Linked DNA regions of Homo sapiens. The protein of the gene in region 2 interacts with the protein of the main gene of each other region in a biochemical or structural test. Each region holds a gene or a part of one and is shown on either strand. Other genes may lie near its edges.

Region 1 (7,029 bases), on a different chromosome or scaffold from region 2:
TAATTTTAATTATTCCAAATAATTAGCTTTTTTCATAAAAAGCTAGTTATTCCAAATATTAGCTTTTTTCATGAAAAGCTAGTTATTCCAAATAATTAGCTTTTTTCATAAAAAGCTAGTTATTCCAAATAATTAGCTTTTTTCATAAAAAGCTAGTTATTCCAAATAATTAGCTTTTTTCATAAAAAGCTAGTTATTCCAAATAATTAGCTTTTTTCATAAAAAGCTAGTTATTCCAAATAATTAGCTTTTTTCATAAAAAGCTAGTTATTCCAAATAATTAGCTTTTTTCATAAAAAGCTAATTTAAATTTGGGGCAAGTGTATTATTAATGGTACATATTGTATTAAAGTTTGTGTAATGTAATATAAAGTGGCCACATTACAAAATATAGGTTGTTTCAGCTTGCAAAATTAAACAACTGTATAAAACAAATTTATAACTGATTGCTAGTAAGAGGTACCATGTAAGAATTGTGTTTCCAGCTGAATGAAGAAATTTTAAAACCTGGTTCCATATATTACAAATCATGAGCCAGGACTTTGGTAGGGGAGGAATTGGGGGCTTTGGCTCCCAAAAATCTCTGTCACATACCCCCTCCCCACCACAAGTACACAATCTATGGAAAATTTGTGCTTATCATAATTACAGCTTTAAGTAATTTTCCCTTCTCTTTGGATATTGTATATTTGCATATTGAAGAGGTTCAAAACAACAGTAATAACATGCATATTAAGAGAATTTGCATTTCATAAATAGTACAAGATAGTACTAAAAAATTGGACATTTGAAAATATGAAGCAACTAAGAGTTGCTTAATGAGATGTCATTTCCTAACAGGATGTTCATTTATGGTTTTTGGCTACTATTGCTCTTTGGTGTGTTTGTGGAATAGAAATTATTCCAAGCTATTGTGAAGAGTCAATAATTAACCAAATGTATTTATTTCCTAAAAAGACTAAAACTGAAATTATTATCATGTAAAGATGGCATCTGTCCTAGGCAACTTGGCTTTATGCAGTTTGTCCTTTCAGTTTTCAGGAATGAGACCTCTTGACCCCTCCCCTCCAATGCAGCCCCTACTAAGGGGGAGTTTAAGGAGCCATACATAGTTCTATAATTCAAATCAAGTAAACATGCTTCTTGTCCCAGGTTAACTTGTGCTGCCTCAGTCGCTGTTTAAACATTTTTATACGCACTGTTAACCTGCCTGCCCATTACCCTATTACTTTTAATGGATAAACTACTGTTCCCTGGGCAGTTGTCTCTTTTAACGTCCCACCCTAAACTTGCCAACCCTCATATGAAGGCCTCAGGCTTGTTATTGGCAAAGGTCAGAAGTCTTAAGCTAGTGACCTTGCAGGCTAAAGTAGGCCTTGAATTTGTTTGACCAGGAACTAAATTAAAAAATAAAAAAGAATGAAATGTCTGGTGGCAGGGGGGCAGGGGTGGGGAGGGTGGTAAGGGGGAGGGCATGCACCCCCAAGTTCCATTGTTGCAGCCCCTCCCATCTTAACTCTGGTCTCTTTTCACTTTTCAACTACCTTCCTTATATACCAAAGGTATTTGAATTTTTAACTCTTATTGATCTTTTATTTCCCTAAACCATGTAGTAATTATTTGCTGATTTCCTAATGTATTGTTATTTCTGTCCCATCACTGTTTTTTGCAGATAATAAAACCATCAGACCTGGGCTTCAATAAAGCCCCACTTAGTGGCCGTGATTGACAAGTGGTCAGGCTGCACCAGGCCATGCTGTGAATGCTCTTTAGGAAGTCTTGTCTCAAGGTTTTGAAGATATTAATGTCTAGATGACAAAAGTGGTACCTTAGTCACCTTACTTATGGTTATTAGTTGTTCATTAATGGGACATGAAAACTCCTAATTTAATAAGGAAAAATTGCATTATGTTGTGATGTTATATTGTCAGGGTCAGCAATACAATTGTCTTTAAGGAGTTGGAAATGATACTGAATGTCACGGGTTATGATGTGTTTATTGTGTTTTCTAATTTTTTCTAAACTTGAATATTTTATCTTGAATGTCAATTATTTGTTGTTTTTATAGCCTAAGTTACTAAAGTAATTAAGTAGTGGGGTTAAAACTGTTAAAATGTCACACTACTCCCTGTCTCTTAAAGACCCTGCTTGCTGTATAGCCACTCCTTGGAGAGGCTACACCAACTGCAAAGGACACAGGGATAGTATCTGTGGGTGGTGACATTGGGGCATGGGAGGTACCTAAAGAGTTTAGGAGTTGGAGAGGAAGGAGCATTTCTTTACAGCCAGGGGCTGGGCATCATGTTTAATTACCACTTTTTTTTTTTCTTGTACTCTATTGGTTGAAAATAGTAACTATTTTTCACCTAACTTCTCTAATTACCAACTGTGTATCTTTTTGGCCTTATTCTATGTAATTTATTTGGCGTCCATTTTTGCAGGTAAATCACATAGTGAGTATCCAGAGAGGACCAACTTATGTATTTAAACTTTTGTTTATTTAAAAGTTTTATAAACTTTCTTTAAAAGTTTTAAACTTTTTAAATCAAAGTTTTTTAAACTTTTTTAAACTTTTACATATTATGTTTTAAACTTTTTATATATTTAAATTTTCCAAATATGGGACTTGAGATTATTAATAAAATTTAAAATAATTAAATCATTCTAAATGCATTTAACTGTATTTTCAGGAAGTACACAGGCAGACACTGTGTCAGGATTTTTATGTGTGTGATTGTCATTACACTCATAATTAGAATGCTTAAACACACACCCTACCCCCACCTCCCCACACACATCCACTCACCCCCTAGGAGTGCAGCCCTGTCCCACCTTAACATTACAAACCTTCATTTGGGGCTATGCTGACAAATCTTCATTAAAAACTATGGATTACAAACTGGTAAACTGCAAGACAAATAAGGCCTTGAATTTGTTTGACCAACACAGTATTTTTAAAAAAGTAAATGTCTTTAGGTGGGAAATGCATGCCCATGTTGCTATAGTTGCAGCCCCTCCCTCTTTTAATCCCACTCTTTTTACACAGATAGTCACCTTTCTATTTTCTAATTAATAACTTTGTTCATATCAGCTAACCATTGTTGAATACTCACTACATAATTTACCTGCACTATTTAATTAAGTCCTCATAATTAGTTTGAGGTATACTATTATTGGGCTTCTTTGAATGTCCCATTTTATAGCTTTTCCTAGGAGGCATCAATTATTATTTCTTGAATGACTGCATAATGACAAAGGAAACTGACATACACATATTGCTGCTTAGTGCCATTTCTGTCCCATAGAGAATTTTCTTTGGGGATTTAAATTATGGTCAGAAAAGTAATTTAGGCAGTCCTGTGGTTTTTGTGGTGGTGGTTGTTTGATTTGATAACCAGTTACCTTCTCGGTGGCAGTGGAATAGGGTTGTGACAGTTGGCCAGAGTACCCTCCTGCCCACAGGGCTGATGAATACATGCATTGTGATTTTAATACTCCCTTCTTGCTTTAATGAGATTCTATTAGTTGCAGTATTAACTATTTTTGGCCTGGCTTCTTTAATAACAAAAGTTATTATTTTGGCTTTAATTTGCATAATTGATTTTGTATCCATGTTTGCCTTGAAGTTTCTTGCTGTGTTTGAATACAAAACTACTTGTTTAGAGGGTTTCAACATTCTTTTATAGTTTATAAAGGTAAGCATGCTGTTGATAATGTATTGTTGAATCATAATGAACAGGTGGCCTTTGAGGAAGACAAGGTCATTTGAACATCAAAAAGTACTTTGCTTTTTGTTATATATGGTGCTGATTACTAACTTTCTCTTGAGAGTTTATTTTCTTTGTTCACTAATTATTAATGTAAGCACGTAGAGCAAGGGATAATTTAAATACCAAATCCTTTGTGTCTGCTTTTGCTGCTTTGAATGTATAAGTTGGATTTATACATACATTTATCTTTATTTACAGAAATAAGCGGGTTTTGAAAACAAAAAAAAGAAGGAGTGGAAGAGGGGGCCAGGATCCAGGCCTCCATCCCCACAGAAGTGAAGCTACAGCTGGGAGGTCTCCTCCCACCCCAACCGTCACCCTGGGTCCCGACTGCCCACCTCCTCCTCCTCCCCCTCCCCCCAACAACAACAACAACAACAACTCCAAGCACACCGGCCATAAGAGTGCGTGTGTCCCCAACATGACCGAACGAAGAAGGGACGAGCTCTCTGAAGAGATCAACAACTTAAGAGAGAAGGTCATGAAGCAGTCGGAGGAGAACAACAACCTGCAGAGCCAGGTGCAGAAGCTCACAGAGGAGAACACCACCCTTCGAGAGCAAGTGGAACCCACCCCTGAGGATGAGGATGATGACATCGAGCTCCGCGGTGCTGCAGCAGCTGCTGCCCCACCCCCTCCAATAGAGGAAGAGTGCCCAGAAGACCTCCCAGAGAAGTTCGATGGCAACCCAGACATGCTGGCTCCTTTCATGGCCCAGTGCCAGATCTTCATGGAAAAGAGCACCAGGGATTTCTCAGTTGATCGTGTCCGTGTCTGCTTCGTGACAAGCATGATGACCGGCCGTGCTGCCCGTTGGGCCTCAGCAAAGCTGGAGCGCTCCCACTACCTGATGCACAACTACCCAGCTTTCATGATGGAAATGAAGCATGTCTTTGAAGACCCTCAGAGGCGAGAGGTTGCCAAACGCAAGATCAGACGCCTGCGCCAAGGCATGGGGTCTGTCATCGACTACTCCAATGCTTTCCAGATGATTGCCCAGGACCTGGATTGGAACGAGCCTGCGCTGATTGACCAGTACCACGAGGGCCTCAGCGACCACATTCAGGAGGAGCTCTCCCACCTCGAGGTCGCCAAGTCGCTGTCTGCTCTGATTGGGCAGTGCATTCACATTGAGAGAAGGCTGGCCAGGGCTGCTGCAGCTCGCAAGCCACGCTCGCCACCCCGGGCGCTGGTGTTGCCTCACATTGCAAGCCACCACCAGGTAGATCCAACCGAGCCGGTGGGAGGTGCCCGCATGCGCCTGACGCAGGAAGAAAAAGAAAGACGCAGAAAGCTGAACCTGTGCCTCTACTGTGGAACAGGAGGTCACTACGCTGACAATTGTCCTGCCAAGGCCTCAAAGTCTTCGCCGGCGGGAAACTCCCCGGCCCCGCTGTAGAGGGACCTTCAGCGACCGGGCCAGAAATAATAAGGTCCCCACAAGATGATGCCTCATCTCCACACTTGCAAGTGATGCTCCAGATTCATCTTCCGGGCAGACACACCCTGTTCGTCCGAGCCATGATCGATTCTGGTGCTTCTGGCAACTTCATTGATCACGAATATGTTGCTCAAAATGGAATTCCTCTAAGAATCAAGGACTGGCCAATACTTGTGGAAGCAATTGATGGGCGCCCCATAGCATCGGGCCCAGTTGTCCACGAAACTCACGACCTGATAGTTGACCTGGGAGATCACCGAGAGGTGCTGTCATTTGATGTGACTCAGTCTCCATTCTTCCCTGTCGTCCTAGGGGTTCGCTGGCTGAGCACACATGATCCCAATATCACATGGAGCACTCGATCTATCGTCTTTGATTCTGAATACTGCCGCTACCACTGCCGGATGTATTCTCCAATACCACCATCGCTCCCACCACCAGCACCACAACCGCCACTCTATTATCCAGTAGATGGATACAGAGTTTACCAACCAGTGAGGTATTACTATGTCCAGAATGTGTACACTCCAGTAGATGAGCACGTCTACCCAGATCACCGCCTGGTTGACCCTCACATAGAAATGATACCTGGAGCACACAGTATTCCCAGTGGACATGTGTATTCACTGTCCGAACCTGAAATGGCAGCTCTTCGAGATTTTGTGGCAAGAAATGTAAAAGATGGGCTAATTACTCCAACGATTGCACCTAATGGAGCCCAAGTTCTCCAGGTGAAGAGGGGGTGGAAACTGCAAGTTTCTTATGATTGCCGAGCTCCAAACAATTTTACTATCCAGAATCAGTATCCTCGCCTATCTATTCCAAATTTAGAAGACCAAGCACACCTGGCAACGTACACTGAATTCGTACCTCAAATACCTGGATACCAAACATACCCCACATATGCCGCGTACCCGACCTACCCAGTAGGATTCGCCTGGTACCCAGTGGGACGAGACGGACAAGGAAGATCACTATATGTACCTGTGATGATCACTTGGAATCCACACTGGTACCGCCAGCCTCCGGTACCACAGTACCCGCCGCCACAGCCGCCGCCTCCACCACCACCACCGCCGCCGCCTCCATCTTACAGTACCCTGTAAATACCTGTCATGTCCTTCAGGATCTCTGCCCTCAAAATTTATTCCTGTTCAGCTTCTCAATCAGTGACTGTGTGCTAAATTTTAGGCTACTGTATCTTCAGGCCACCTGAGGCACATCCTCTCTGAAACGGCTATGGAAGGTTAGGGCCACTCTGGACTGGCACACATCCTAAAGCACCAAAAGACCTTCAACATTTTCTGAGAGCAACAGAGTATTTGCCAATAAATGATCTCTCATTTTTCCACCTTGACTGCCAATCTAACTAAAATAATTAATAAGTTTACTTTCCAGCCAGTCCTGGAAGTCTGGGTTTTACCTGCCAAAACCTCCATCACCATCTAAATTATAGGCTGCCAAATTTGCTGTTTAACATTTACAGAGAAGCTGATACAAACGCAGGAAATGCTGATTTCTTTATGGAGGGGGAGACGAGGAGGAGGAGGACATGACTTTTCTTGCGGTTTCGGTACCCTCTTTTTAAATCACTGGAGGACTGAGGCCTTATTAAGGAAGCCAAAATTATCGGTGCAGTGTGGAAAGGCTTCCGTGATCCTCTCGCTGCACCCTTAGAAACTTCACCGTCTTCAAACTCCATTTCCATGGTTCTGTTAATTCTCAAGGAGCAGCAACTCGACTGGTTCTCCCAGGAGCAGGAAAAACCCTTGTGACATGAAACATCTCAGGCCTGAAAAGAAAGTGCTCTCTCAGATG
Region 2 (7,029 bases):
GCTCAGCCAGTTAGTCTGGATAAACCAAACTTGAATGTATACATAGGCCCAGCGACCAACCAAGATGTGTTAGTTGTAGAGGATGAGAAACAACAGAGAGCCGTAAGGCCTGTATCAAACTTAAAACAAGGCAGATCTGTTTACCTAGCCCTTTGGCCTACAGTTTGAGGCTCCTAGAAATTATGGGACTGCCTTTTTACTGTCCCCACCTGCTCTCAGAATCTCTCATGGGCTGGCTCATGTGAAAAAAACCAACGTTGAATAAAGTACCAGAGCCCACATCTCAAGAGCTGCCACTGTTTGCCTGAAAGACCACCTCCCAGGGCCTTGATTTCCTCATCTATACAAATGAGAGATGAATCTGCTTGACTTCTAAGGACCTGTAGCTTCTAGCATTCTATGAAAAGAAGGGAGGCTATCTGGAATGTTATTGGATGCCCTCTATCTGCCAGTTACTTTGCAGGGGTCAGCTTTTACTAGTTTGCCTTTTTTTTTTTTCAGATGAGGAAACTCATGCCTACAGAGTGGTTAAATGTGAAGTGACTTGTCAAATCACACAGCTAGTAAGAGGACCAGTCCAAGCACCTGCATCTCAAAGGCACAGATGTTTTGTCCTACACCTTACTACGTAGGGATTTCGAATCTGAGTGTATACTCAAGATTCTGAATCATAACTCAAGGTTGACACCAGTAACAAAACCGTCTGGTTGGATGAGTTCACCAGATGGGCCTCTTATGGGACCATCCCAAAATGACAACATACATACTCACTATGAAATTCATTGGCAGGAATTTTGTAGGGCATGTAGGGTAGGAAGATGGGAGGGTGGGGGAAACCTACAAACCTAGTATTTTGTGGGGTATCATCACAGCTCTGGACTGCTTCAGTTGGCAAAAAAATGGATGTATTGCCAAATAACTATCCCACTTAGGTTTAGGGTAATTAATTAAAGGCTAGAGTGTTGCCAGCACCTTTGATATGGGGAACCGGATGCATTATTAGCTCAGATCTTTGGGTGTGGTGACTCATGCCTGTAATCCCAGCACTTTGGGAGGCAGAGGTGAGCAGATCACCTGAGGTCAGGAGTTCGAGACCAGCCTGGACAACATAGTGAAACCCTGTCTCTACTAAAAATACAAAAATTAGGGCCAGGCGCAGTGGCTCACGTCTGTAATCCCAGCACTTTGGGAGGCTGAGGTGGGTGGATCACCTGAGGTCAGGAGTTTGAGACCAGCCTGACCAACATGGAGAAACCCCGTTTCTACTAAAAATACAAAAAAGTTAGCTGGGCATGGTGGCACATGCCTGTAATATCAGCTACTCAGGAGACTGAGGCAGGAGAATTGCTTGAACCCGGGAGGCAGAGGTTGCAGTGAGCCAAGATCACGTCATTGCATTCCAGCCTGGGCAACAAGAGTGAAACTCAGTCTCATTAAAAAAAAAAAAAAAAAAAATAGCCAGGTGTGGTGGCAGGCACCTGTAATCCCAGCTACTCAGGAGGCTGCGGCAGGAGAATCGCTTGAACCCAGGAGGTGGAGGTTGCAGTGAGCTGAGATTGTGCCACTGCACTCCAGCCTGGGTGACAGAGCAAGACTCTGTGTCAAAAAAAAAAAAAAAAAAATGGAATGTCTAATAGTGTATGGCTTTCTTCCGCTTGGGGTATTTTTTAATCCATTCTGTGGCTTGTTCCATGCCTGAGAACTTTTGACATCCTGTGCCCAGACTTAAACTCACCCCTTCAGTGTGTGGGTTTAGGGGGAGAAGTGAAGGTTGACACATTCATATCAACAACATAGTCTACTTTACCATCCAACGATGTATTTTGATATCAGCCAAGTATTTCTCTCTACAACTGTGAGCAATGCTAATCCACTCCAGCCTTCTTACACTGTAATGATACCTTTTCTTTGTCCTCTCTGAAAGTTTCTAGTAGCATATCTCCAAATAATTATTGAATTTGAAAGCCTCAGCTGGACAAGTCTTCTCTGTGGTTGAATTGTGACAATGTCTGTGTTCCTTAAAAAAATAAAAAATAACATAAAACCAAGTAAGGTTAGACAAAACAGTTGAAAGTTTAAAATCCCTTGGCCTCATCTAGTTCAGTGGAGACAAACTTTCTAAATGGGAGGAGGGCCATGTAATGAGAGGAGAGGAGAGGAGAGAAGTATTTGATGCACTCATGGCCTCAGGGTCAGGGAGACCTGGAGGAGCAGTGGAGATGGTGGAGAGCCAGAGAACAGGTGCCACCTCCCAAGAGGCAGCCTTTACTCACCTCTGGCTGATTGGTGGGGTTGGGGATGTGGGTACAGGCATATCAGACCTTTAGATTTTTTTCAAGAAAAGCCAGAAATCTGGATCTTTTTTTTTTCCTTTAAGAGATGTCATCTCACTATGTTGCCCAGGCTGGTCTTGATACTCCTGAGCTCAAGCAATCCTCCTATCTCGGCCCCCCAAAGTGCTGGGATTACAAGTGTGAGCCACCGTGCCCAGCCTGGATTTTTTTTTTATGTTAAATATCTCGATTTTTTTTCTAGCATTGGCTGACTTCACATGTATAACCACCACTTGCAGACAAAGCGAACCACCACGTCTCCAGGCCAAATTCCAGCTGCCAGCATGCAGCCTCTGATCTGATTCTCTTGTAGAAGCATTCCTTGAGCCTGGAAGTTCTCATTTAACTCTTGCCATACATGAACTTTGGAACTCTGTTAGGCCCTAACTGTTGGTGATTTTGTAGCTTGTTTTCTTTTCATCTTCATTTTGCCAAGAGAATATTATTTTCTGGCCATCAGGAACCCTCAGATGATGGCCTTGTGACTAGATGTTTGACTCTATACAGGTCAGTTTCTTTTTTGCACCTGAGGGTCTTTAAGAGAAGGGATTGGACTAAATGATTATCCCAAGGTTCTTTCTTACCCTAAAATTTTAAAATATAGTAAGCGGTCCCAGTGAAAAGAACGTGAGCCAGGAAACAGAAGACCTGGGTTCTCGTCCTGGCTTTGTGTGACTTTGGTCCAGTCACATACTTCCCTGACCCTGTTTGTTCATCCATTAGAAAGAACGGAGATGACGCCTAGTTAGTGGGTGCTTGGAAATCAGATTAGAAGTGCTGTTGAGGGCTTTTGCTTCACCATATGGAATGGAATATGGGGGGTATTGGGGTGGTTGGAAGGTTGCAATGGGGGATCACCTGGAAGCAGGAAGCACAAGCCGATTAGCCAAAAATACTTTCAAAAATTTCTTCCTAACCCCCAGAATTCTCCTAACACAAAACTATTTACTTTGGAAGTTGTCCCTGAAGTCCTCACTACTGCCTGACATGGGCAAGGTTGGCCCATAAAAGCACAGAGTGAACTGGCAAGGACCAGAGTCCACATACATTAACTCCGGGGCTCAAGATTTTAAAGAACAAAATTGATAATACACCTTTCGTTGTAGTTTACTTTTTGTATAAAGCAGAAGCATTAGAATACTATATGGCAGTACTTAAGCTTAATGGTAATTCCACACATAACTGGCCAAAGATTTTTCACAGGTCACCATGACCTGGAACTAGAGTAAATAGTTATCAGTGAAAGTTGAGCCTTAGTATAACCAGAACAGAGGCTTACCAAAAGTTACAGCAGGTCTGGCCTATAAAATACCAGCCCAAGATTGGGATAGACTCTCCCGTTCTGTGGTAGAGCTGTTTTTTGAAGCCCCATTAAAAAGTACTGTATACATGAATATAGTGAGGCTTCACTGTAAAATGTCTTAAGCATCAGATTTTGCTTCTGACAAAATTTGTGAGACATGGCCGTTCTTATTCAAACCCATAAGGTCCTCACTCCTTGAAAGGGGCACGTAGCAGATACACATTTGCTAAACTGTGTACCAGTGCCAGCATTTGGAGCCACTGTGTATTGCTGGCGAGTTTTTCAGGACATGATCATACACAGGGTATTTGAATGTGGTTCCACGCTGGACATCCTGAAAAGGAAAATAAGAAAGTCTTCCTGATCAAATGTATCTTTATTTTAAGATTCGGGGTATCCTTTTAAGGCTGATGAAGGATACTGAAATGCTCTACAGAATTTCATCAGCTTTGCCCTAGATTGCAAAACTGTTGTTTTCCTCATTTCCAGTTTGGTAAAGATTTTATGTAATGATTTTTAGACTGTGTAGCATCTATGGAATAAAAGGGTTTTCCTGTTCTCAGTTTTTGCCCACAGGTGATATACAGATGGATGAAAAATATTCCTGGTCAGGTGTGGTGGCTCATGCCTGTAATCCCAGCATTTTGGGAGGCTGAGGAGGGCAGATCATGAGGTCAGGAGTTCAAGACCAGCCTGACCACCATGGTGAAACCCCGTCTCTACTAAAAATACAAAATTTGTGCCAGGCACAGTGGCTCACACCTGTAATCCCAACACTTGGGAGGCCGAGGCGGGCAGATCACCTGAGATTGGGAGTTCGAGACCAGCCTGACCAACATGGAGTAACCCTGTCTCTACTAAAAATAAAAAATTAGCCAGGCGTGGTGGCGCATGCCTGTAATCCCAGCTACTTGGGAGGCTGAGAGGCAGGAGAATCACTTGAACCCAGGAGGCGGAGGTTGTGGTGAGCTGAGATCGCACCATTGCACTCCAGCCTGGGCAACAAGAGTGAAACTCCGTCTCAAAAAATAAAAAAAATAAATAAATAAATACAAAAATTAGCTGGGCATGGTGGCTCGTGTCTATACTCCCAGCTACTCAGAGGGCTGAGGTGGGAGGATCGCTTGAGCCCAGGAGGTCCAGGCTGCAGTGAGCTGAGATCTTGCCAATACCCTCCAGCCTGGGTGACAGAGTGAGACCCTGTCTCAAAAAAAAAAAAAAAAAAAAAAAAAAGGGAAGAAAAGAAAAAGAAAAATATTCTTTTGCTAATGCGCCGGCCTATGCACTGCTTTAAAATTTTGAATCAGCAAAGATAGTATCTTTGGGTCCCTTTTACCCCCAGGATCCCTCTAACTCTGGCAGTTTTGAGGGCAGCCCCTCATCTGGCCTGGTCCAAATCCCAACTCCAGCCCCACTGTGACTGGCTGGTGACCTCTCCAAGCCTCAAGGTTGCCTTGAGGACCAAACACACTAATAATTCATGCAAAGTGCCTGACACAGCCCAGGCACTAAATAAATGTGCTCAGTTAGAAGCTAACAGAAACTAAATGGCCGATGTCTGAGGTCAGGTTCATGCATAAACTTGAAAAAAAGGAATCATTCCTATTTTTTCCCATAGATTTTCCCAATGAGCTTCCCTTCCCTACTCTTAATCATATAGCATTTTCATAGAGCTGTGTAAGTTGGCCCTTGTATTGGTTTTTCAGTGATGAGGATTTTTTTTCATTTCTTTAAATTTTTTGAGAGGGAAAACTGGTTAGATTAAGCAGCATTTTAAATTATATGTATTATATTTTGTGTATTTTTACATATTATGTTTTCTAAAGTTATGATTATTTTTAAATGTAGAACATATAGAAAATAGTATAAAATTAAAATCTCCTATAATCTCCCTCACCTAAAGATAACCACTATACCATTTTGCATACATCCTTGCAAACTTATTTCTACATCGGTGGAGTTTTTCTTTAAAAACAAAAACAAAAACAAAACAAGTGAGATGGTGATATGGTTTGGGTCTATGTCCCCATCAAGTCTCATGTTCAATTGTAATCCCCAATGTTGGAGGTGGGGCCTGGGGCAGGTGGTTGGATCTTGGGGGTGGATTTCTCATGAATGGCTTAGCACTATCCTCTTGGTGCTGTTCTCATGATAGTGAGTCTTATGAGATCTGGTTATTTAAGAAGTGTGAAGCACCTCTCCCACCCTTGCTCCTGCTCTTGCCATGTGAGATGCCTCACTCCCCCTTTGCCTTCCACCATGATTGGAAGCTTTCTGAGGCCTCCCTAGAAGCAGAAGCCACTATGCTTCCTGTACAGCTTGCAGAACCGTGAGCCAATTAAACCTCTTTTCTTTATAACTTACTCAGTCTCAAGTATTTCTTTGTAGCAATTTGAGAATAGAACAATACAGGTGAGGAATCCTATTGTCTACACTGTTTCATAATCTGCTTCTTTATCTAACACATTCTTTATCTAACACATCGTGACTGCTTTTCTACAGTGATAAATATTCTTTAGGATCATATTTAATGGCCACATATTGCAGTTCTATAACAGTACCAGAGTTATTTAATCAGGCTCCTATTTGTGGTCATTTAAATTCTCTTTTCTTACTGAGATTTTTTTTTTAAAGCACTGCTATAACCAAATCTTTGTACACAAAAATATAGTTATTTCCTAAAGTTAAATTCCTTGAAGTTGGATGGTAGAGCCCAAGGGTATATGCAGAAATCTCAGTGTTTTTTTTTTGTTTTTTGTTTCGAGACAGGGTCTAGTTCTGTCATCCAAGCTGGAGTGCAGTGGCATAATCACAGCTCACTGCAGCCTCAACCTCCTGGGCTCAGGGGATCCTCCCACCTTAGCCTCTTGAGTGGCTGGGATTACAGGCACACACCATCAGGCTTGGCTAATGTTTGTATTTTTTGTAGGAACAGGGTTTCACCATGTTGCCCAGGCTGGTCTTGAACACCTGAGCTCAAGTGATTCGGCTTCAGCTTCCTGAAGTGGCAGGATTACAGGCATGAGCCGCCACACCCGGCCTGAGAAATTGAAGCTTTTTGATAGTAGAACCAAATTGTTTTCTCCCTTAGAATGGTTTACAGTTGAATGTCCATTTCTTCCCAGCAGCACCGACATTGGGTGTTACCTTTTGGTTTTCTTAATGCCACAGCCTGCTTTTTCTCCCTGGTGCAGTGTCAGGCCAGAGTTGGCCGCTGCTGACCCCACCAACTTTACATCATACTCACTCTTGCCTTGGAATCTCCTGCAGTTCCAGGCCCTCTCCTTCCCACAACCCATCTGCCTAGCCAGTTCTTGCCTCTGCTCACCCCTCTCGTCTTTCTGAAACTCTCCTAAGTCTACTGGTGGAGACAGATGTGCCAATAGGGCAGAG
Region 3 (7,029 bases), on a different chromosome or scaffold from region 2:
ATAGAACTATAGGACTATACTGTATGTGCTGCTGTAGATGACACTACTGTGTTAAACTTGCGTAAACTTCAAATATTAATCTAGTCAGGAAGTTTTAGAAAATAAAAAGCCTGTACTAAAGTAGGCATCCTCTTGATATGTGTCAGTTTATTGCTTGGCATGTTTGTTATATGATCATTAAATTACTCTGGCCCGTTCTTTTAACAATAAAGCATTGAAGACTTCTCTTCTGTTAAACACTAAATCCCTTCCCCGGCTTGATGAGGTTTAGATAGCAACTCAGTTGGACTGATCTGTTTCCGGAGTTTGTTACTGCCCCGTGCACAAATTGGCACAGAAGTGAATGGCTAGTTATTGAAGTCAGGCTTGCTTCTCGGTGCATCCTTAGCCTCATGGTTTTAGACCCTGTCAAAGACGAGCAAATAGTTGGGAATGTGCCCAAGCAAAGACCCATCTCCTATGGCACTCATCCAGAAAACACACTGATAAAATTGGCCAAATGTAGCCTCAACTGGCCCACTGATGCTCGAAATGATTTCCTTCCATTGTTTCCAACTTGATGCATGTGGTTTCTGGAACCAGGAGAGAGGGTGAATGTTCACTCTGGCCAGAAAAATTATCTCTTTGCCTCCCTCTTAAGCAGTCGGATACTTTGCTGACATGTAGGGGTTTTGTCCTAATAGTAAGTCCTCTGGAATTGGCTTTGTCTCTGTGTGTTTTATAGATGCGGCATTTGGTAGAGGATTTACTTTTGTGAGTTTGTATCCATCTTTTTTTTTTTTTTCAATATTTTAATCTGAGCTGAGTTCTGAGGCAGAGAAACACTCCTTAATGACCTGAAGAACTATGTTGCTTTTTCAAGGGTTGATGCTTAGATCAAGTCTTAGATCTTCTTGGGCCTTTGACAGCTGCGTAACCCAATCCCCTCTTTATAGGAAAGAGACAGCCTGGGATCACAGTTAGTTGCAGAGTGAACTATGGCAGGCATCCAGACCACTGACCTTTTCCTTAGAGAAGAGCTGTTTAAGCATATAAGATTATAGCATTGATGTCATACTTTTTCTTTTCAGACACACTCAGTGGGGGGAGCCTGAGATAATAGGGAATCCAGCCTGTAATTGTTTGTGGCTTAAGCGACTTTCATTATTGGCTCTGTGGTGGCTCTTATAATCCTAATAGCTGCTTCCAGGGGTGGGTAATTCTTTAGTCATTATAGGTGACTTTATTTGTCTCTTCTTCTCTTGCTAGGCCCATCAATTCTGTTTGCTACCAATCACCCTTCCTCAAGCCATGCTTTGCTTAGTGGTACCATCATTTGTTAAATCTTCATTGCTGACGTCGCCTCACAGTTTCACCTTCTGAAAGATGTTCAAGCTAACAGCCTAACTTGAGCTCTAAGGATGACATCACATTGACATTTTGATGTTCAAAGGCAGGATATGGGGATTGTTTGCTGCATGAGGATATGAAGTTTGAGAGAGATGGTGATTTAAGCTTTAAAATTGTTGTAAAGTCCAGTTACTATTCAGCCTTATTATTGATCTGGCATGCAAGGTGTGTTTTGCCTAGTTCCGTGTTTTCATGCTACTATTGAGAGTGACTCGGCAGCCACGTTGAAGCTGATTCATTGAACCACTAGCCCATTAGCTTGGGGCTCTACTCAAACGGTCATTTTACCAATGAAGCAACGCTGCCATTTATCAGGAAATATATGGCCTGGATCTTTACATGTATGTTTGAAGATAGGTCTTTTAAAATGACAGAAATAGCTATTGATCTAGGTAAAATGTGAACTTACTCTTTAGAGAAAGAGCCATTCGCTAGTTCATTGATTTATTTATCACATTTTAGATGGACACCTTCTGTATGTCAGGCACTGTCCTAGGTGCTAAGAATACATCAGTGAGTAGAACAGGAAAAAAAATCCCTGTCCTCATCTTGTGTTGCTGGTTCTAATATTTTCCTTGCACCTACTGCATCCCTATAAAAAATATTTTTCAAACATGGCGGTATCCTGTGAAGAAAAGAACTGGCTTTCTATACTTTGCTTTCTTCCCCCTCCCCACTCTGTGTTATAATTTTTCCCTTGGAACAATTAGAGGTCTGTTTACTCTAATGGTAATTTTCAGTAGGATTTTTGGTACGGTTTTCTACTTTATTCTTCCACCTGGTTGATACAGGTAGCACTTAGACAAAGAGAACTTCAGATTATCACCTGATTACATAATTATCAGGAAGAAGACACATATTAAGATACATGCATGGCTTTTTTCCTGAAAGGAATCTCCCTGTGTTGTCTGTGTTAACAAGTTAGGGTGCGGCTTCCTATTGATCTTCCTCTATTCTTTCTATCCTGAGCATTTTATTGAGTAAGCCTGACCTTTTCCTCCTTTGGTGATTAGTTCTGTCACTTTGTGTATGCAAATACCTTTAGCCATTGTTCTGAAACAGTGTGAGTGATTCAGCAGCACTTGCTAAACAGTCATAATCCCTAAACTCCACACCTAGTGACTCTGATTTTGTAGCATGGGAAACTAGAAACTGCTTTTCCAAAAAGGAGTATTGAAGAAAGGCAGGGCATACAAACAGGTTATGCAAACAGGGCATGCAGATAGGTTACTTTAAGAAAGACTGTGTAAAATGTTCTAGAACTGTGGGAATATTGTTGAACTACTTTCCACTGGGCAGAGCCATAGTATGACCTGGCCATTGTGCACAGAAGAGTCCAAATTTATGTACCATACATGAAATTAAGAAGCCAGCAACTACCTGTAAATGTCACGTAACACCCAAGGAGACTGTGTTACTTATCTGCTCACCAGTGGGAGGAGAAGATTGTCTGTCTCAGCTTTGTTAACCAGCTTTCTTGGGATTTCTCCATAGGCAATGGTGGCTTGCTATCCGGGAAATGGAACAGGTTATGTTCGCCACGTGGACAACCCCAACGGTGATGGTCGCTGCATCACCTGCATCTACTATCTGAACAAGAATTGGGATGCCAAGGTACTTTTGAATAATGGGAGTAGAGTGTGGGGTTAGAAACTACAGGAAAATGATTCAGATAACTTAGAGGAGAGTTTATATTGAGTTCATAGTTGCCGTATCTCCCACTGATGAAACATTTCTATTTCCATTTCATAACCTCCTGCGACAATGGAATTAGTCCTAAAGTTGTTAAGAAGAAAACAATGAAGTTAATTTGGAGTGGGGTAGGTAGGGTGATTATTAACCCTACCTCTGGGAAGGGTGGTTGATGAAGGGAAGGTAATTTGATATTAGGATTAAGGATTAATTTTTTTCAGTTTAATTCAGAGTTGTTCTGACTCAATGCAGAATAGGATATACACTTTTCCCTCCCAGCAGCAGCATTGAGAAAGTTCCACAAAAATAGAACTGTAGGCTATAAAACCATCCCCAAGAGAGATTTCCCACACAGTCCTCTCCCTCGGGGTGGTATGTCTCATTGATGGCTGCTTGCCATGGCTTACTATGGTTTGTGAATGCCAAAGGCTTTGTGGCTTATTTTTGTATTATAGAACTTATAGATAGATGGAGATATGAAGCCTGGTTCCATGCTTACAGACATTCATCTGGACTCTGTATGCTTTCCGAAAGTTAAGAATGATTTAGGAGTCTGGGAAGTCAGATAACTTTTCAAGCTTATTTGGCTTTTGAACCTTCTGCATCTCAATTTCCTGTTCATTAGGCAAATACTGGCTGTCATAAAGCAATAATATTTATCCAGAGTCAGAAAAACGAAACTTGGGAAACCATTGAATCAGTGAAAAGGCCTATCTCTTCTCCCTGTTTGGTAACATGACTGGAATACATCCATTAAGTCTCCTTTAAAATCTTGAGAGGTGCTGATAGAGACAAGAGAATAAAGTTATCAGACTGGTAATAATAAATTGCAAGGTCTGGAATCATTTAACAAATATTTGAGTTCCTGCTAGTGTCAGGCGTTGTATTATGAAGAAACATTGATGTGTGAGGCCTGAACTTTACTCTGAATATGGTTATTCTAGTAGGATGAAATAGGTTGACATGTAAAAAAAATAATTCAAGGAAGAGAGTGGTGTATGTCATAAAAGGTGCAGATTAGGTGGTCTGAGAGTTCAGTAAAAAGAGCATGTAACTTCCAACTAATGAGGTCAGATAGGAGCTAAGGGAGTTCAGAAGAGCTGTAAATTCTAATTGAAGGGGAAGTTACATGTGATGATTTTCTTAGAAAGTTGTTAATGGTTAGATGGAACCATGTGAGATCACTGGGCATTTTTTTTTAAGTCAAAAACACTCAAATATTGGCAAATCGGTATGATTCAATCTAATAGTACTCTATTTTACGTCCATGGGCTTTATGACTGTGGGGGGTGGGAGTGCTTTTTTTGGTTTAAGGTGAATAAGGAGATATCTCTAGCTAAGTTTGATATAAAATTTGGTACGAAGTGGCTGGGCGTGGTGGCTCATGCCTATAATCCCAGCACTTCAGGAGGCCCTAGTGGGCGGATCACCTGAGGTCGGGAGTTCGAGACCAGCCTGACCAACATGGGGAAACCCCGTCTCTACTAAAAATACAAAATTAACTGGGCATGGTGGTGCATGCCTCTAATCCCAGCTACTCGGGAGGCTGAGGCAAGAGAATCACTTGAACCAGGGAGGTGGAAGTGGCAGTGAAACGAGATCGTGCCATTGCACTCCAGCCTGGGCAACAAGAGTGAAACTCCATCTCAAATTGGTACAAACTATGAGGTTGAAGTAAAAATCTGGGGTACCATGCATTTGGAGTGGTGGTTAGCAGATGGCATGTTTCTAAATGGAGCTGAAATATGGTTGTTGATAAACTACATGAGAGGTAAGAAATAATCCCCCTTCTTTGTGTCTTTCAGCTACATGGTGGGATCCTGCGGATATTTCCAGAGGGGAAATCATTCATAGCAGATGTGGAGCCCATTTTTGACAGACTCCTGTTCTTCTGGTCAGATCGTAGGAACCCACACGAAGTGCAGCCCTCTTACGCAACCAGGTAATAGCCGGAGCCATGATTCCTCTTCCGGAGCTTGGTGTACAAACCCTAGTTCCAGAGAACTCTTTAAACGTGTGTCCTGTGCATGTGGGGGATTGACCACACCCCATAGCTGATAGCAAACTTGTTTGGAGTCTACAAAAATTAAAGGGGAAACTTTGCGTTCTTTAGCATATCAAACCTAACCTCAGTTTGAAAGTACTATTAACAAGTTGTTTTCTATTAGATGAGCATATTGGATTCCAATTTCTCAAAAGTATTTTTCTCTTCTCTCCTTTCCTCCCTTCTCTTATCTCTCTTTCCCTTTTTTTAAAAAACCTAATGTTGAACTATGCCTAGAGAATGTTGGCTGTCACATATCAGGAATTCTGTCTGGTTACTTTGGATGAGTTTACAAGCTGCTAATTGCAAGCAGAGAAAGAGCCTTGAGAAGAGAAAGAGTAATTTGTTTTGACTTTCTCTTTTTGTCTTTTCCTTGGTTTGAAATTGGCTTGGGCTTGCTGTATCCATGGTCCAACAGTTGGATGTTTTATTAATCTTTTCTTTATCATGTGCACATGAAGATTCTCAGAGTAACTGAACACCTTAGTATTGTTTAGGACCAATCTAGACAATCTTGACAAAAAATCTTCATTCTCAATTCTGCCTCTCATTTACCTTTGTCTGTGTCTAAAGCAATAAGCCGGGCAGCATTGGAGGGCTATGGAGTGCAGCTTATACTGAGACTAGCATTCAGGGGCAGGAGGAGAGAATTTTGGTAGGATGATGATTAAACCCTAACAAGCCTAATTAAATTAAGATCACATGTGCCCTCCTCCGGAAGTCACACAGCTTAGCCCCAAACCCAGTTATATATTAACTGCCAAATCGGAATGTCTTCTAGATGAGCAGGGAACGAATTCTACCACTGAAGTCAGCTTTTGTGTTTTATGGGGTATGTAACTAAACCCTGTTGTTTGTGGCAGAAGTCTTTGGTTATTCCCCAATCTCATGATGACTGGCCTTACAGGGAAAACATTAGCAAATGTTGATGAGAAGTCCCTTGAAAAAAACTCAAGTGCTATAGAAATTGTTAGCTACGGAAGTAGCTAACAATCATTACAAAATGAAACTTTAAAAAAAAACCAAGCATGAAATGGCTCCCATTACAGTCTATCCAATGAATGGGATAAAGCAAATTAGTGGGGATGCAGTAGAAAGCTCTGGGGCATTATTATTATTCAATTGCAATTTTGCCTCAATGTCCAAAACTAAAGAAAGCAAGCCAAGAGTTTTAAACATACTGTGATTTACATAAGTCGTTTTTCAAAGCTTCACTCAAATGTCATCTCTTCTCTATGTTCTCGCCACCAACTTGGGTCTCCCAGTCTTTAGCAGAATGACTCCCTTCTAGTCCTTTCTGTAGAGGCTATGTTTACCTGTTGCATTATTGCAAAATCACCTGTCTCCCCTACTTGGAGCCTGAGATCGCAGAGGAAGATCTGATCACAGGGTCATTTGAATTCCTAATGCCCAAGATAATTTCTGGCACATACCTGGAATTCCTTATGCATTTTATTACATTGAAATAGAATTAAAACCAGAGAAGTTAATTTTAAATTAAAATCAGCGTAGACAGGCCGGGCATGGTGGCTCACACCTGCAATCCCAGCACTTTGGGAGGCCGAGGTGGGCAGGTCAAGAGATCGAGACCATCCTGGCCAACATGGTGAAACCCCATCTCTACTAAAAATTTAAAAATTAGCTGGGTGTGGTAGCGTGCACCTGTAGTCCCAGCTACTTGGGAAGCTGAGGCAGGAGAATCGCTTGAACCTGGGAAGTGGAGGTTGCAGTGAGCCGAGATCACGCCTCTGCCTGGCAACAGAGCAAGACTCCATCTCAAAAAATAAATAAATAAATAAATAAATAAATAAATAAATAAATCAGGGTAGACTTCTAATAATAGAGAAAACTTTAAAACTTTTAATGTGAGATTTATAGGACATTTGTGTTTCTAGTAGTACCAT
Region 4 (7,029 bases), on a different chromosome or scaffold from region 2:
ATCTGACATAAATTTTATTTCTCCCTCAACTAGATCATAAGCTCCATGAGGACAAGGGCTTTGTTTTATTCAGTGCCTGGTATACAACAGATGCTTCAATATTTGTTGAACAAATAAGTAAATCACAGTAAAGCCTTCTTTACTTAAAATTATTAGTAATTTATATTAATATGATTAGGGATATTTATATGAATAGGATAACATTACTTTCCAATATGAAAAAGATAGTAAACTAGTAATATAAACAAAATTATATGGAAAATACCTTTAAAATATTGTCTAAGTTAGACTGTGGGTCACTGTTACCCACCAATAACCACAATTTTAAACTTGTAAAGTAATCTCAGTATCTTGCTTACTGGCCATTGGAGATTGACTTTGGTCATAAGTGTCAGCTACTAGAATTTCATTTTCATTAGGATTATGTTGTGGATGAGTTGAAGACTTGGAAACTTTTCTCATTTCTAAGGGGAGAAAAAAATAAGAGATTACACAATAAACAATGATGATGAAAAGCATTATCAAATTATTTTTATTTATTCATATTTAAAATTTTTATGTATTATCTGTATTTAAATCCAATATAAGTACTGTTTTATTGACATAATTATCATATTCTAAGAAGTAAGCTCCTTTAATTTCACTAAGAAACAAAGCTGTTTAAGTTAAGACATTGGGAGAGAGGGGACTAGAACAGACAGCTTCTTCTAACCCAAATTGCCTAGAGTAGTAACATTTTAGTGTTACTTCTCTTTTTATATTTGTTACAAATCAGCAGGTTAATTTAAAAAGGTATACTGGGCTGGGCACAGTGGCTCATGACTGTAATCTGAGCACCTTGGGAGGCTGAGGCAGGAGGATCTCTTGAGCCTAAAAGTTCCAGGCTGTAGTAAGCTACAGATCACACCACAGTACTCCACCCTGGATGACAGAGTGAGACCCTATCTCAAATAATCAATCAATAAACAAATGATCAATCAATCTAATGTATACTATATCATTTATCTCCATGATCTTTGTTTTAGAGTTTCTATTTTCGGGAAGGAAACTCTGAAGCATGCTTTATCAGAAATCACTCCAATATTTAAAGATTTAGTTCAAAGAAAACCAAAATAAGGACAAGGTAAAGTGAAATGGTTTTACTATTTATAACTTGAGAGTAATATTAAAAAGCATTATAAACCTTAAAATAAGCAAGCAAGGGAAGTTAGAGAACAGGACTAATTAGTCATTAAAGCATTTAAAATTATTATTATTATTATTATTTTTGAGATGGAGTCTTGCTCTGTTGCCCAGGCTGGAGTGCAGTGGCATGATCTCAGCTCACTGCAACCTCCACCTCCAGGGTTCAAGCAAGTCTCCTGCTTCAGCCTCTCGAGTAGCTGGGACTGCACGCGTGTGCCACCACGCCCAGCTAATTTTTTATATTTTTAGTACATACAGGGTTTCACCATGTTAGCCAGGATGGTCTCGATCTCCTGACCTCGTGATCCACCCACCTTGGCCTCCCAAAGTGCTGGGATTACAGGTGTGAGCCACCGTGCCCGGCCTTAAAATTATTTTAAAATCATTTGTATGGCTCAAGGTTATCGTACATCTTAAAACCAAATTTCAGATTCCAAGTAAAAAATGATCAGAACAAGGTTAAAGCAAGTGAATTAAATTTCTAAATAGTTACATGCTGCTTTCATACAAAGAAGAAATAAACCAGAAGCATTTATATTGGTTACAAAAGACTTTCCTAATATGGAATTGTTTTCTAGATATTCTTATTTGTGAATTTAAACCTGATGTAAATTATGCAGTGATTATCTTTAATGATTCATGTCCTGTCTGATAGCAAACTAAAAGGTCAACGGATATTCATTTTAGATCTATGATTTTACATTTTAACTTAGCTCCTATTTAAGTGTAGGATTTTTAACAGTTCTTTTGTTTTCCACTAGATGGTGATACAAACGCTTATAAAGTGGGGGAAAACTGTCAATGTTCCAACATCTAAGAATAAGATCTGCTTATTTGTTTAAAGGCATATTTACTGTCAACAATTTATTTGTATTATACAAATATAGTAGTACATATATATCCCCCGTCCCCCATGCTTTCCTTGTTGCAAATAGTTTAGGTTAAAAATTAAAGTCTTTACTGTTTGCTTTAGATTAATACTAAAAGTAATACTTGTATCATGGCACATAACAAATTTTGGGACTATGTGAAAAGACAGTTTTAAAGCATTTAGCAGAAATGATAAACTAGGCTGGAATTAGAAACATGTCACTGAAAAGCCACAAAGTGTACATATTATAACACCATTTCTTGATTACCACTAACTCCTACAAATTACAACAAATAAAAATAGCCAGTTACAGACAGCTCCAATGGCAGGAGTACCCATGTGGCAAGACCTGGAGAGTAGGAAAGTTCAGAGCTAAGAAGATCTGTATTTGAATTTTGACTCATCTACATAATAGCTGACCTTGAGTGAGTTAACCTTTCTAAACATATCTTTCCTCATCTATAAAACAAAAGAGCTGATAGTTATCTCACAAGCCTGTTACGAGAATTAAAACATAGCAATAATACATGCAAATCACTCAGCATAATACCTGGTACACAGGAGGTAGAAATTAACATTAAGTTCCTTTCCTTTTTCCTTCTATCCCACTTGGATATATACACATAGGAATATTTTTAAAATAAAAAGAAAAAAGAAACTATTTACTACATTTATAAAATATGGTATATTTACATGTCATATAGATGACACGTATCTATACATAACACGGGCAGAAAACGCCTTCTCAGTCACTTTACAAATAGAAGTTAAACTCATAGTTGTACCATGGGATACCAGAATAGTGACTATCTTCTTATCACTAGATTGAATAACATAAAAACTAGTAGATGAACACTGGTTTACAAAACCAGAGAACTAAAATACAACTCCAACTCTTACCATTTGCACACACAGAGTGCTCCAATTTAGTATGTGTTTGTTCTATGTATCGGACATGGGGGTTCTCCTTTCTTCGTAGCCGGTTAACGCCAGAAAATGAGAAGGCTGTTATCGGTGAATCTGGAATAACGTCTTCCTCACATTCAAGCTCAGCTGCTTGATGCTGTTGATCATTCCTAGAGAAGAATGACAATGGAAAGAAAATCAATTCAATGAGTATTAAAACATTTACTACATGGCATGGAGTTACAGTAGAACACAAACATGAAGCTCTAAGGGATGTAATCCCTTGCATCTAATGTTCCAAACCTAAGTAGATAAGTACACGAATGATTACAGTACCCAGTGGGAAATACTATGTGAGAAGTGAAGTAGAAAGTATAGTCAATAGCACTTCAGGTGAAATTAAAAGTATTTCAAATTGCAGACAAGATCAGGAGAGAACCCACAGTCTGAGGAAAGGCATGCAGTACTGTGTACTTATGTTGGAGAAGGGAAAGCTGGAATTACATGAACGAGAGCCATGAGCTCAATGTGCACATAATGTAGAAAGCAAGAGGAAAGAAATTAAGGTTTTAGAGCTTGGATATAATGTGACAATCTAACAGTATTGTGCAAGATTGGGACAGAAGGACAGGAGGCAAGGAAATCAATTAGTGGCTATAATAGTCCAGGCAAGCCGCTCTGTCTGCGGTCTGAACTAGAATATTTTAAGTACATATGGAAAGGAAAGAACGTTAAACATCATGGTAGTAGAATTAGCATGCTTGACAAATACAGGATGAGAACACTAACAATGATAACAACCAATTTTTGTTATGTGTTTACACTGCCCGGCACTATTTAAATTATGAGTTTAATTATCACAACTCTGTGAGGTATTACTACTTTCATTTTACAAATGAGGAAATGAAGATACAGAAGTCATTTACTAAAATAGTAACAGAGTCAGGATTTAAATCTCAGCAGTCAGACCCTAACAATAACACATTGTTAACCAAATGTGTTATCCATAGTCTACAAGAAGGCTTCAAAATTTGAGTTTCTGTTACTGCTTTTATCTAGGCCCCCTTATAGTCTACTCTCAACAACAGTCACAAGAGTCCTATTAAGAGATAAATTGGGGCCGGGCGCGGTGGCTCACACGTGTAATCCCAGCACTTTGGGAGGCTGAGACGGGCAGATCACAAGGTCAGGAGATCGAGACCATCCTGGCTAACACGGTGAAACCCTGTCTCTACTAAAAATACAAAAAATTAGCTGGGTGTGGTGGCAGGTGCCTGTAGTCCCAGCTCCCGGGAGACTGAGGCAGGAGAATGGCGTGAACCCAGAGTCGGAGCTTGCAGTGAGCTGAGATCGTGCCACTGCACTCCAGCCTGGGCAACAGAGCGAGACTCCGTCTCAAAAAAAAAAAAAAAAAAAAAAAAAGACATAAGTGGCTCACACCTACAATTCCAGCACTTTGGGAGGCCCAGGCAAAACCCTATTGCTACGTACAAATATATTAAAAAATTTGCCAGGCGTGGTGGCACACACCTGTAGTCTCAGCTACTTGGGAGGGTGAGGTGGGAGGGTTGCCTGAGCCCAGGAAGTCGAGGCTGCAGTGAGCTATGATCATGCCACTCCACTCCAGCCTCGGCAACACAGTGAGACCCTGTCTCCAAAAAAAAAAAAAAAAACCCCAAAAAGACTTAAGTCATATGGATGAAATCTCATGAAAACCCTGTCACATCTGCTCATTTCACTGAGAACACAAGCCAAAGTCCTTTGATCCATGAAGATCCTACATGACCTGATGGTGCCCCTCCCATTTTTCCTCTCTGACCTTTTTTCCTATTATACTCTACTCCTGCCACACTCTCTTCCTTGAGGTTCCCCAAACACACCAAGCATACTCCCACCTTAGGTTCTTTGCACCAATTGTTCCACCTGCTTGGAATGCTCATCCCCAGATACCTACATACCTAATTATCTCTCTAATCTCCTTCAAGTCTGCTGGAATTTTACCGTTTAAAATTGCAACCTCCCTTCACACACCCTAGTACTCCTGTTCCCTGTTATTCTGCTCTATAAACTTTATCCACAGCATTTACTGCTTTTTAACATAGTATGCAATTTACTCATTTTTATTTATTTAGATTTTTTTTTGAGTCTGAGTCTTGCTCTTTTGCCCAGGCTGGAGTGCAGTGGTCCAATCTCGGCTCACTACAACCTCTGCCTCCTGGGTTGTAGTGATTCTAGTGCCTCAGCCTCCTGAGTAGGTGGGATTACAAGCGTGCAACACCATGCCTGGCTAATTTTTGTATTTTTAGTAGAGACAGGGTTTCACCACGTTGGCCAGGCTGGTCCCAAACTCCTGACCTCAAGTGATCCACCCGTCTCGGCCTCCCAAAGTGCTGAGATTATAGGCGTGAACCACGGCGCCCAGCTGCAATTTATTTATTGTATCTATTGCTCACCTGTTAGAATATAAGTTCTAAGAGGATGGGATCTTTGGTTAACCGATGAATCACAAGAGCCTACCACAGTAGACATACAGTAGGTATGGCGTAAACATTTGTTGAGTGAATAGGAGACATTCCCAGATTCCACTAGAGAATAAATTTGTGTGGATCTAGGCATATGTTCTTGCCCAACTCAATTCAGGATCAACTGTAACTGAAAGATTGGGTTTGAATTGAATTGTGAATGTTGAGTAAAAATAAAGTTAATTGACTTTCCCATGTCAAACCATTACTGACCTTATTTGCCAACCAATTGTTACCAGTCTGTCAGACATTTAGGCTTTACATGACCAAATCAGTCTGTCCTATTAGACTCGTATCAACTTGCAATACTATTTCCAAATAAAAGCTTATATAGTGAGAACTGTATGAACTATGACCAACAGAGATTTTTAAGAAACATTAATTGGAAGACAAAGACTAATTTTTCCCAAAAAAGATTTACACTTTAATTTCCTGAATGATACCAATATTATTTGTAGGCTTTAATCCTACATTTTATACCAAGGAACAATCTTTAGAGCTAATGTCTAATTATTTAAAATTTTTTAAATTTTAAATAAAATAAACATAAACATAAAATAAAATAAACATAAAATTATTTAAAATTTTATTTTATGTTTTTGAGACGGAGTCTCCTTCTGTTGCCCAGGCTGGAGTGCAGTGGTGCGATCTCAGCGCACTGCAACCTCTGCCAGGTTCAAGTGATTCTTGTGTCTCAGCCTCCCGAGTAGCTGGGACTACAGCTGCGCGTGCAACCATACCTGGCTAGTTTTTGTATTTTTAATGGAGACAGGGTTTTACCATGTTGCCCAGGCTGTCTCAAACTCCTCACCTCAAGTGATCTGCCCACCTTGGCCTCCCAAAGTGCTGAGACTACAGGCATGAGCCACTGTGCCCAGCCAAATTTTATTTTTAATTGACAAATAATAATTGTATCTACTTACTGGGTTCAACAAAATGTTTTGATACATGTTTACAGTGTAGAATGATTAAATCAAGCTAATTAACATCTATCACTTCACACACTTATCTTTTTTTTGTAGTAAAAACATTTAAAATCTACTTGGCAGTTCTGAAATATACAATCATTATTAAGTCACCATTCTGTGCAATAGATCTGATATCTAATTTTTTAATCTCTTCCTGTAATTTTCTTATTCTGGAAAAACAGTAAGTTAAAGTCATATGAGAAAGGCTTATAAATTAATGGAGTGTGAAATCTATCTGACCTAGCTTTAACTAATCACGTCACAGCCTGCTTGCCTATTAGTCATAAAAATTCCACCTGAAACATGAATGAGTCACGAGAAGCAATTGATTTCCTGGCAGAGTCAATGTGGAAGAAGCTGGGATCACAAAAGGAAAAAACAAAAAAACAAACAAAACTAGCTCTAACTAGAGGTGCCCAAACTAAGTAAATGAGTGCTGGCTTTGTCTTCCTTTGTCATAAAAGGAAAAAACAAAACTCCATATGTTAACCAAGTTCATCCTTTAAAACACTAGTCTCACTGATTTTCTGAGAGAAAGAGTTCACGTCACAGCTTTTGGTTAAATTAATTATGCACA

Evidence for each region.
Region 1: the proteins of SIAH2 (region 2) and PEG10 form a complex in vitro, tested with the Homo sapiens proteins (one study listed by BioGRID).
Region 3: the proteins of SIAH2 (region 2) and EGLN3 form a complex in vitro, tested with the Homo sapiens proteins (2 studies listed by BioGRID).
Region 4: the proteins of SIAH2 (region 2) and RBBP8 form a complex in vitro, tested with the Homo sapiens proteins (2 studies listed by BioGRID).

Annotation. Positions count from the first base shown.
Region 1 is NC_000007.14:94,659,366-94,666,394, forward strand, and holds part of PEG10 (retrotransposon-derived protein PEG10), read left to right. Parts: intron 1-3,968; coding exon 3,969-5,169; coding exon of another isoform or gene 5,170-6,317; 3' UTR 6,318-7,029.
Region 2 is NC_000003.12:150,753,163-150,760,191, reverse strand, and holds part of SIAH2 (E3 ubiquitin-protein ligase SIAH2), read left to right. Parts: intron 1-7,029. UniProt on the Homo sapiens protein: E3 ubiquitin-protein ligase that mediates ubiquitination and subsequent proteasomal degradation of target proteins.
Region 3 is NC_000014.9:33,927,070-33,934,098, reverse strand, and holds part of EGLN3 (prolyl hydroxylase EGLN3), read left to right. Parts: intron 1-2,883; coding exon 2,884-3,003; intron 3,004-4,886; coding exon 4,887-5,023; intron 5,024-7,029. UniProt on the Homo sapiens protein: Prolyl hydroxylase that mediates hydroxylation of proline residues in target proteins, such as PKM, TELO2, ATF4 and HIF1A. Target proteins are preferentially recognized via a LXXLAP motif.
Region 4 is NC_000018.10:22,978,321-22,985,349, reverse strand, and holds part of RBBP8 (DNA endonuclease RBBP8), read right to left. Parts: intron 3,133-7,029; coding exon 2,957-3,132; intron 465-2,956; coding exon 360-464; intron 1-359. UniProt on the Homo sapiens protein: Endonuclease that cooperates with the MRE11-RAD50-NBN (MRN) complex in DNA-end resection, the first step of double-strand break (DSB) repair through the homologous recombination (HR) pathway.